Homo sapiens: one gene and its partners. The protein of the gene in region 2 interacts with the protein of the main gene of each other region in a biochemical or structural test. Each region holds a gene or a part of one and is shown on either strand. Other genes may lie near its edges. The genes, in order: CSNK1E, PER2 and BTRC.

The links.
Region 1: of the proteins of PER2 (region 2) and CSNK1E, one has a biochemical effect on the other in vitro, tested with the Homo sapiens proteins (one study listed by IntAct).
Region 3: the proteins of PER2 (region 2) and BTRC form a complex in vitro, tested with the Homo sapiens proteins (one study listed by BioGRID).

The regions. Positions count from the first base shown.
Region 1 is NC_000022.11:38,310,859-38,314,508, reverse strand, and holds part of CSNK1E (casein kinase I), read left to right. Parts: intron 1-339; 5' UTR 340-351; coding exon 352-427; intron 428-3,650. Other genes in the region: TPTEP2-CSNK1E (casein kinase I), read left to right, coding at 352-427.
Region 2 is NC_000002.12:238,257,579-238,261,228, reverse strand, and holds part of PER2 (period circadian protein homolog 2), read left to right. Parts: intron 1-275; coding exon 276-401; intron 402-1,175; coding exon 1,176-1,260; intron 1,261-2,584; coding exon 2,585-2,732; intron 2,733-2,828; coding exon 2,829-2,953; intron 2,954-3,650. UniProt on the Homo sapiens protein: Transcriptional repressor which forms a core component of the circadian clock.
Region 3 is NC_000010.11:101,525,075-101,528,724, forward strand, and holds part of BTRC (F-box/WD repeat-containing protein 1A), read left to right. Parts: intron 1-938; coding exon 939-1,125; intron 1,126-3,650. UniProt on the Homo sapiens protein: Substrate recognition component of a SCF (SKP1-CUL1-F-box protein) E3 ubiquitin-protein ligase complex which mediates the ubiquitination and subsequent proteasomal degradation of target proteins. Recognizes and binds to phosphorylated target proteins.

The DNA of each region.
Region 1 (3,650 bases), on a different chromosome or scaffold from region 2:
GCCAGGCTGTGGGAGCCTGGGGGGTAGGAGGTGTAAGAGGGCTGATGCCCGTTGTGATCCCTTGAGAAGCTTCTTTTGAGGGGCCCCTGAATGAGCATCCCCCAAAGACATGCTTGCTTGGCTGCTTCCTCTCTGGCCACACTGAAACCTGTCCTCAGCCTGCCTTAGCTGTTCCCCAGGTGTGTGGAGTGCAGGCTGTGGGCCACCTGACACCTGCAGAATGTGGTCTTCGAGAATGCAGGTTTTCGAGTTCCTGGTGGCTCTGCCTGGCCTTGGTGGACTGGACCCCTTTCCCGGCTCCCCACGTCGCTGACCCTCATGTTCCTGCTTCCTCTGCAGCAAGAGTGAGCCATGGAGCTACGTGTGGGGAACAAGTACCGCCTGGGACGGAAGATCGGGAGCGGGTCCTTCGGAGATATCTACCTGGGTAAGTGTTCCTAGCTCCAGCTGGAGCCCCTGGGGCCAGCCCATGGGACCAAGAGGAGGAAAGACCCCAGGATTTGGGGATCTGAAGTCAGAATGTGGCTCCAGGGGCATGATTTGCCCCAGGGCCATCCCAGATGGGGAAGGAAGCAGCAGGTTGCCGGGAGGCAGGCCAGGGGGCTCCTCTCGCAGGCCAGGCTGGGCACTGGAGGGTATTTTTAGCTCCAGTTTCTGCAGGAGTCATGCGGTTCTTTTGTGCCTCAGTGTCCCGGGTCAGCTGGGTCACCAGCTGGGTGTGGGAAAACCCAGGCGGGGTTCACATCCTCTCCCCTGCTTCCTGGGAGAAGGATATTGGTAGATAGAAGGGACTTGGGTTGCTGCTGGACCCCTAGCCAGGCCCCCCTCTCTATGTCCTGGCCTCCTGGAACCCAGCCCAGGCAGGCTTTGGGATGACGCAGGCTCCCCTGTAACCTCGGGGGTGGGGTGGGGGGATGCGGTCTCCTCATTAGGGAGTTCTCTCTCTCTCTTTTTCTCTCCGGATGTGCTTCCTGTTGAAAGTATGAGTATGCTGTGATGTTGCATTTTAAACAAATCACTGACCTCTCAGTCCTCCCCTTGGCCTGGGAGAAATGAGGCTTGCGCCTTTCAGTGCCACTTCTGAGGGGCACGGTCATGAGTCTTGGCCCTTCCTTTGTGCTTATTGGTCCAAAGGGAAGGTATTTAGTGTTGGTGCTTGTGGATTAGCGGGTGGAGGCTTGAAGTTGCTGGAGTGAGGTGGCCAGCCCTTCTACGAGTTATCCTCATTCCTGTCCCTGCACCCTCAGAAGCAGGCTAGACACACCTCTGTGCCTTGGTTACCCTCCTTGGAAAATGAAAATCAGCTCTGTCCAGTGCAGAGAACACCAAGTCTGTGTGTCGTGTCCATCAGCTCAGAACTTCGGGGTTTCTGTTACCCCATGGTTAGGGTTCCTTGGAGTATGAAATGTGCTAAGGAAGCCTCAATGGAGACGGGGACGGAGACTGGGAGTTCCCTGACCACTTCCTTGCAGGGTACTTTCTGCAGCCCCTAGAGATAGTACCAGATTATTTGTTTGGCACATCAGGAAACTGAGGCACAGATGGTCAAGTTGGCCTCCCAAGACCGCTCTAGAAAACTGGCAGAAGCAGCCTGTATGCCCACAGCCCTCCACATGAGTGAGAGCGTGGAAGACAGAACATGCCGAGGGAGACGTTAGACGTCTAGCTCTGCGTTCTAGACGTGGCTTTGTGTGGCTGTGGGAAGGTCATGCAGCTCCTCTGTGCCTCAGTGTCCCCATCTGTAGTTTGTGATAATGCTGCCTGACTGACCAAGAACTGTTCCAAGGCAGAGATGAAATGACAGATGGGAAAGTATTTTGTAAACTCTAAAGTGCCAGCCAGATGTGCAGTTCATTGCTGAGTGCTTAGTAGATGAGCCTCCCCTATGGACACCCTGGAGCTCAGAGGGAGGGAGAGTGTGTGGTGCAGCTGGTTTAAAGGTTTTTCTCTGCGACCCCAAGCTACTCCCGGGGAGGCAGGCATTTGGTAATATCTGCTAGTGCCCAGCGCAGTGGGTGTTCACTGAAGGCTAGTCAAGCAAACCAATGAGAAAATGGGGATTGTGACATGCACAGACATGCACAGTAGCCTCACAGCAGAATAGAAAAATGCCGGGATGGCCAGGTGCGGTGGCTCACACCTGTAACGCCAGCACTTTGGGAAGCCAAGACAGACAGATTGCTGGAGTCCAGGAGTTCGAAACCAACTTGGGCAACATGGTGAGACCCCATCTCTACAAGAAAAATATAAAAAGTAGCTGGGCATGGCGGCACGCGCCTGTAATCTCAGCTACTCAGGAGGCTGAGGTGGGAGAATCACCTGAGCCATGGAGGTTGAGGCTACAGTGAGCTGAGATCACACTCCAGCGTGGGTGTCAGAGTGAGACCATGTCTCAAAAAAAAGGAGGCCAGGAGATATGGCTCACACCTGTAATCCCAGCACTTTGGGAGGCCGAGGCGGGCAGATCACTTGAGGTCAGGAGTTCGAGACCAGCCTGGCCAACATGGTGAAACGCTGTCTCTACTAAAGATACAAAAATTAGCTGGGTGTGGTGGCACATGCCTGTATCCCAGGTACTCTGGAGGCTGAGGCGGAAGAATGGCTTGAATCTGGGAGGTGGAGGTTGCAGTGAGCTGAGATCGTGTCATTGCACTCCAGCCTGGGCGACAAAGCAAGACTCCATCAAAAAAAAAAAAAAAAGAAGGAAAGAAAAGGGCTGAGATGTGGGGGCCAGTCCAGGTTCAGATCCCCAGCGTGTTCCTCATTTGCTGTGTGACCTGGAGTAAGTCACCATATCATTCTGAGCCTCAGTCTTCTCATCTGAAATGAGTGTACCCAGCTCCTTACTGTTTGTGAAATTGGAGTGGGTGTAAAGGACCCTCGTATTATTGAAGCTGTTGGGCTGAGCACTGAAGTCTGGAGCCACTGGCTGGAGGTCAAAGGGCATGGAGACAGCTCTTGGCACAGACTTGTTCCTAGACAGCGCCCATCCCAGGTCCCGTCGCTCTTTTTGCAGACAGGAGACAGGCCCATGGCTGGAGCGGGGACAGCCCAAGATCACTCAGAAAATCCAGAATCTTGTGTGGTGGGACCTCCCTGGGGACAGGACTTCCTGTTTATCTGCATAGTCATCTCATTCATTTTAAAAACTAAGTACAGATTTACTCCTCTTTGTACTGGCTCTAGAGTAAATTCGACCTAGGTTTGGGTGCTGGTTCTTCCTTTTGTGAGCTGTATGCGCTTGAGCAGGTGATGACCTTGTCCATCCTTGGCTTCCCCATCTGCAAAATGGGGTCGTGCAAAGTAATGAGGTCGTGGCGTGTAAAATACCCACGTGTGCTGGGCCCAGCAGTAGTGCTGTGCGCTGCGCCCCCACCATTGGTCTTAGTTTCTAGTTCGGAGTTGATTTCGAAGGGTCTGGGTCCTCTGGGTCTGAGTCTGGGGAGGCGAGTCAGACTCCTGACTCTCCCATCTTCACTGGTGCAAGGGCCTCAGGGGACCCTGCCCTGACTCACCATCCTGCCAGCACCCTCCTGGGCCCCTGTCTTGTTGGTTTGGGGACAGTGGTGATTGTAGGGCGTCCCCGGCCAGCCTTGCTGGCTCCATTTATTCAACACTCTGGCCACATTCTTATCCCCAGTGCTCTGCCA
Region 2 (3,650 bases):
CTGGCTGCAGCCATGCGTTGATGAGCGGGTTGGACACATTCCTTTGGTGCCGTCTCCTCGGTGACTGCATGTCTGGGTCGGGGCACCGCGGCTGGAGGCCAGGAGTCTACCTCTGGAGCTGACCCTGGGGTTCAAACCTCAGCTCCCCTGGTCTCTGCCATGTAGCCTTAGGCGGGTCGCCATCCTCTCTGCGAAACAGGGTGTGTTGGCAGGGGGCCACATGCATAGCTCAGCAGCCCTGGCTGTGTCTGTAGCGCTGTCTGCTGTCTCCCCAGCCCGTCCCCCACAGCGGCTCCAGTGGCTACGGGAGTCTGGGCAGCAACGGGTCCCACGAGCACCTTATGAGCCAGACCTCCTCCAGCGACAGCAACGGCCATGAGGACTCACGCCGGAGGAGAGCCGTACGTCTCCTTCCATTCTCCCTGAGAAAATGAGTTTGTGGATGTCCCTCCAGAGTTAAAAAGCACACTCAAGACAACCTTTGGCAGTTAGGAGGGGCTTCCTGATTGCAGCTGTTGCTGCTTCCTTTCTAAACTTTGTCCACTTGGGACTTTTTAATCTCTTAAGAGTTGAAAGAGCTAGAAACCATAGCTAAGTGTTGGTTGAAAATTATTTAAAACAGACAAAACAAGCAAAAGTGAAGATTTAACTAGGATAGAAAGAAGAAAATGTGGGCTGGGTGCGGTGATTCACACCTGTAATCCCAGCACTTTGGAAGGCCGAGGCAGGCGGATCACCTAAGGTCAGGAGTTCAAGAACAGCCTGGGCAAGGTGGTGAAACCCCGTCTCTACTAAAAATACAAAAATTGCCTTGCATGGTGGCGCGCCCCTGTAATCCCAGCTACTCGGGAGGCTGAGGCAGGAGAATGGCTTGAACCCGGGAGGCAGAGGTTGCAGAGAGACAAGATTGCGCCACTGCACTCCAGCCTGGGTGACAGAGCAAGACTCTGTCTTAAAAAAAAAAAAAAATGTAATGTGCCGTTTTGCTTTATTTTTTATTATTCTTTAGGATCATCAAATAGGTTTTATCTAGCTCTACACCTGTCAGATTTCTCATCCACAGTTTCCTTCTGTGTTGCTGAAATTATTTCAGCCATCCTCTGTTCTCACTTTGCCGGACAGACTGAAGGAGGTCTCCTAGAATGAATAATGTGTTCATTTTGTTTTTCTTCAAGGAAATTTGTAAAAATGGTAACAAGACCAAAAATAGAAGTCATTATTCTCATGAATCTGGAGAACAAAAGAAAAAATCCGTTACAGGTAAAAAAAAAAATATTCAACATTTCCTTACTGAAACTAGAGTATGGCCACATGAGAAGAGGGAACCTGGGTTAAATGCTGACTCTGGCTGGCAGGGAGTCTACCTTGTAGCCGTGTCACACCCCCTTCTGCGTTCAGCACAGTCTGCAGCTTCCAAGAGGCGAGAGCAGCCCAGTCCTGCACTCAGCCAGTGCAGGCACTGATGTCCACACTGGGCACCTGATGCCCTGCAGGCCTGGCGGGGTGTGGCTAGGTGTGCAGGCCTGGGGAGCTGTGACCAGTGTGCCTTCCTGCACCCTGGCCTGCCAGCAGGGTGTGCCTGGGAGCCACGGCCTGGGCCGCTTGTTCTTGCTGTACAGAGTAGCTGTATGGCTGTGTGTTTACACTTGCAAACCCTTCACTCACACACACACACAACTGCCGACGGTTTGCCCAGCATCCACATACACTCAAACCAAACCTGTCTGAAGTGGGGAGTACCACCCAGGGGCTGCCGACCCACCCCCACTGCAGCAGCCCTTTCCTACCACAGCGCCACACTTCCCAGGCAGCTTCACAGTGTCATGCGCGGGTTCAGATTCATGCTGCTCCTCTGTCCCGCATGTATTTCTCACACAGCATGCACACAGACACGTGTGCACACATGCATGCATCCCAGTCCCCTCCCCCTGGTGGGCCCTTGCTCATTCTCTGTGCTCAGGCCGAAGCCTCCCGTGGGGAACACTCTGGCCAGACACCGCTAGGACTTTTGGCCTTGGGGATGTGTTGGTGGACATGCTGCCTGCTGGACTCTGTGCTGGGTGTTGGGGACACGCTAATGAGCTGGACACAGCTCTTTGCTTGAGGGTCCCTAGGGGACAGGCATGTGATGAATGTCGTTGGGGCAAGAGTCGAATCTGCAGCACAGTGAGCAGGCAGTTGTCATCATAATTGTTACTAGCAGGGATCACCTTGAAAACACTGGCCTGGCCCAGGAGGAGCATAAAGTACGTGGGCTCTCATTGGCCCTGAAAGTTTAAGAGTTCAAGTGAGAACTGCTGTCTCCCACTGCTGAGTCCCTGACCCCTGGGGACAGCCTAGACCCCAGAGAGAAGCAGACACCAGGCTGGGCAGCAGCTCCCCCCCCAGGTCTCTCTGTGGACGGCACTGTGGTGCTCGTGCCCACAGGGCTGCCAGATGCCAGGCTGTCCCCAGGCTTCCATACTCATGAAGCAGATTCTGAGTCCCCAGCCCTGTCTTCAGGTAGAACGAAAATGCTTTGTAAATACACAGCGTTTTCTGTGGGAGAAAAATGAATGAAAGAACAATTTTGCCATTCCTTCAGAAATGCAAACTAATCCCCCAGCTGAGAAGAAAGCTGTCCCTGCCATGGAAAAGGACAGCCTGGGGGTCAGCTTCCCCGAGGAGTTGGCCTGCAAGAACCAGCCCACCTGCTCCTACCAGCAGATCAGCTGCTTGGACAGCGTCATCAGGTATGCCGGCATTTCCAGCCGAGTCTCCACCATCTCACACACCTTCCCTCCTCTCATGTTGTGTGGCCTCACCAGTGGTTCATGCCTTTCACACAGGTACTTGGAGAGCTGCAATGAGGCTGCCACCCTGAAGAGGAAATGCGAGTTCCCAGCAAACGTCCCAGCGCTAAGGTCCAGTGATAAGCGGAAGGCCACAGTCAGCCCAGGGCCACACGCTGGAGGTATCTAATCTGTGTAGAGCCATGTACATGTGAAATAATGTAAATCCTCTGGAGTAGAGTCAGACGTCCCCATGGCTTCTGTGGACACAGTGTAAGGGTGTAGGCTGTTTTTCAAATGATGAAAGTAGTTCAAAAGTCAGCACCCTTCTTAGGAACTAGAGGCAAAGATGGTTCTGTCAGAGCCTTGGCTTTGAGAACAGGAAGCCAGTGGGGCTACTGGAGGCCTGGGGCCGTCCCCTGACCCCCCTCATGCAGACACACTGCAGGGACATCTCCTGGTCCCCTTCATGCGGCCACACTGAGGGGCCGTCTGCTGACCCCCTCATGCAGCCACACTGGTCTCAAGTTGTCAGTCTAGGGCAGGCCCTCTTTCCAGTGTGTCTCAGAGGGGCCCTTGGCCTGAATGTTAACATGGCCCATAAATCACATTAAATCCCAGGCTGCTTAACACAACGCTGTCAGTGTTGCTGATGTTCACCACCAGGATTAGAAATGGTACCCCGGCTGGGCGCGGTGGCTCACGCCTGTAATCCCAGCACTTTGGGAGGCCGAGGTGGGTGGATCACTTGAGGTCAGGAGTTCAAGACCAGCCTGGCCAACATGGTGAAACCCCATCTCTACTAAAAATACAAAAATTAGCCAGGCATCATGGTGCATGCCTGTAATCCCAGCTACTTGGGAGGCTGAGGCAGGAGAA
Region 3 (3,650 bases), on a different chromosome or scaffold from region 2:
AAATAACTTTGAATGTTTTTATCTCAGTTGTAAATGTAGAACAGCAGGCAAAAGAAGTTTTTTTAGTGAGATCATCCTATTTTATAGGATCTTTTCTTCTGAGACCTCAGTACAGATTTGGGTGGTGGAGAACTTTAATTGGGAAGCCCTTCTGGTTTACACTCCCCAAGATCTGTTCTCCACTGTTTTCCTCTGCACCTCCTACAAAATATTCTCTGAAATGCTAACCAAGTTATCTTTTGGTCTGGAATTTTTTTTCATTTTTGCCCAACTGTCATTTAGGTTTTATAGCAGCAGCTACTCTCAAATATAGTTTTTTTAAATCTGAAATTAAACCCATTCTTGAACTTAAACATACATCTCTGTCTTTCTCTTGGGATATTTCCATGCCATTCTGTATTTCCTTCTTCTCTCCTTTCTGCATGCCCAAAATTCTATAACCCAGCACATTCTGACTTAGTGCCTCTCCCCTAGTACATTTAAAGGACATTTCTTTTACCGAACAGCTTTGGAACTACAGCAGTAATAGAAACAGAATGAGAAATGGACCTAATATAGAGATTTGGGGGGGTCTGAATCATAGAGTTTGAGATGCCATCCATAGAACATCCCCTAGTGCTGAAATCCATATAGATAGATGTGAATTGTTTTCTGGAATCCTTTTTATTTTTAATGTCTTGGGGGGTTTGCTGGTTGTTAGCTTTAACTTCCTTATCTAAAGGAAGATGGAAAATACTGTTCATTTCTGTAACCTTATGGAAAAATTATTGACACTCATTTTACCCAAGCCTCTGTTTGAAAAAGAAACTGGACCACACTAGGGACAATGATGTGCCTTCATAGCAGAACAAATGCTGTTCTGTTTTAAAGGACCTTTTGTAAAAAATCATTCGCCACCTTCTGTGTTCTTTTTCTTTGCCTCCTCCCCCTACTGAAAGCTCGGGGATTGGATCATATTGCTGAGAACATTCTGTCATACCTGGATGCCAAATCACTATGTGCTGCTGAACTTGTGTGCAAGGAATGGTACCGAGTGACCTCTGATGGCATGCTGTGGAAGAAGCTTATCGAGAGAATGGTCAGGACAGATTCTCTGTGGAGAGGCCTGGCAGAACGAAGAGGATGGTGAGCCTTTAACTTTTCTTACTCTTATACGGCTTCAGGACCTGGCCATTCACAGTCACTGAAAGATTTTTGGGGAGCCAATGAGACCACTTCTCATTTAATATGGTGATTTTGTTGATTTCTAGCTTAAAATGTAACAGAGAACAAATGTTCATATACTCAGCAGTTTTTCTTCTTACCTGTCACTCACAAAATGACATGATATTGTATTAATACTGCTTTGCAAAAAATAATGGAAAGCTGATCAGCCCTCCTGTTTAAAACATTCTGTTATCTGGGCAGAAGTTGGTATCCTGTGGCTGGGCACAGTGCGTTCACGCCTGCAATCCCAGCACTTTCGGAGGCCAAGGTGGGCAGATCACTCGAGGCCAGGAGTTTGAGACCAGCCTGGCCAACGTGGCGAAACCCCAACTCTACTAAAAATACAAAATTTAGCCGAGTATGGTGGCGTGCACCTGTAATCCCAGCTACTGTAGAGGCTGAGGCAGGAGAATCGCATGAACCCTAGGTTTCTTTCAGAAAATTTCTTGCCTTTATCTTATGCCTCTGGTGTTTTGTCACCTTTGTAATCAAAAATTATTTTTAAGCCCAAGTGGAATAAGAACTCTAGCCATCAGAAAAAGTGAAAATGAAATTAAGTATAAATCATTGTTTCTTCTTAAGACTTCTGTTTTTCAAGATTTTCTGACTTAATTCCGAATTCCCCAAAGCATCATATAGTTAGCAGTCTAAGAGACTTCACTAATTTTTTTGTTGTTCTCTTAACAGTACTATTTCATTAGAACTTCTGAAAGATATCTTTCTTTAAATACTTTTCTCTCAGAGTATGTCTCTAGAATGTCACTATAGGAAAGCTACGTAGTAATAGTTCACAAATAAAGGTGACATATTAAATATTCTCATTGACAGAAAAAATTATAATAGGCATGTGTGTGCTTAGTGATGTCCTTCCAAATTAATTTTATCAGTTGTTTATCTTGGATCATAAAGAGGAAAACAGTTAAAAGTAGAGAACACTTTTAAAAGATAAATATTCATGGGCCAGCTTTCCTTTGAATTTTCATGAAAAAGTAGTTGGCTCTCTTTCTTTTTTTCTATCTTTGAAATTTATTAACACATAATAAATACAATGACCTATAAATATTATACCAAATGCCTCAGATTTTTATCATTCTGGCTATTAGGAAGACTGTTTAAATTTTTCTCTCAAATTGAATTAAAGGAACAAAAAAACTAGGCAATTTTTAGGCTGTGTAACAAAGAATATTGTTGGCCGGGTGGGGTGGCTCACGCCTGTAATCCCAACAGTTTTGGAGGCCAAGGCAAGAGGATCGTTTGAGCCCAGGAGTTTGATACCAGGCTGGGCAACATATTGAGACCTCATCTCTACAAAAAAATCAAAAAATTAGCTGGGCCTGGTGGCGCATGCCTGTAATCCCAGCCACTCAGGAGGCTAAGGTGGGAGGATGGCTTGAGTCTGGGAAGTTGAGGCTGCAGTGAGCTGTGGTCATGCCACTGCACTCCAGCCTGGGCAACAGAGCAAGACCCTGTCTCTTTCTCTGTCTCTCTCTCTCTCTCTCTCTCTCTCTCTCACATACACACACACACACACACACACACAAAAGAATATTATTACTACTTCTCAAATATGTTTTTTAATTCTTATTTCGCTACATAGAAAAATAGAAATCTTTCATAACCTACTTCATACTTTGGAAATAAACTCTTTAATAGTACAACAAAGCAAATAAAAATGGAGTTATATGGTATTCGGGGTCCATCATTTTGCTAAGAGTGCTGGGACCAGCCTTGGGGATACAGCAGGCAGTTGCTTACATGAGAAAATTTTAGGGCAGCTGAGAAGATTTCTGTATCCCTCAGAAAAAAAGAATCTCGTCTCCAAATAACTCCTGAAATTTCAGTTAAGGAGATTCATTCCTTTAGCTATAAAGGTTCTGTTACCTGTTAAAATACATTGTGTTCCCATTTGGACTGTAAATGACAGTAAACCTTCATCATAAATTGGGAGTTTACTGAGTCCTTTTTTGAAGGCAGAAAGATCAAGAAGTAAGTGGGCAGTTCTTGGCAGATGGATGTGAAAATGCCAAAGGTAAAAGGCTCCACAGTTTTGCTTGGGATTGGCACTAAATGGCAAGATCTTTTATGTTAGTTACAAAGAAAAAACAATCATTGAGAAGATGGCTTTTGAGCCTTTCTAAAGGGTAGGTGAAGTAATCCAGGATCCAGCACTAATTACCACTTTTTTCCCCTATCTCTTTATCCACAGAAACCCATTCCCGCTCTTTTGAGTATCCTTCAGAGTTCTGACTATATCCCCTTGTCTTTGGGCATGTTTATCCTCTTAATCCCATGATAAACCCATGAAATTCCAAATACTTATACATCCCGTGTCAACTTCCTCCATTATTCCCTCGACTTTCTTGTTGCTGCTTCTGTTTTTACATGTTGACTTTATTCCTGTGTCAGTTTTCTTCCCTTTTTTAAAAAAAAATTTACTCCATCAG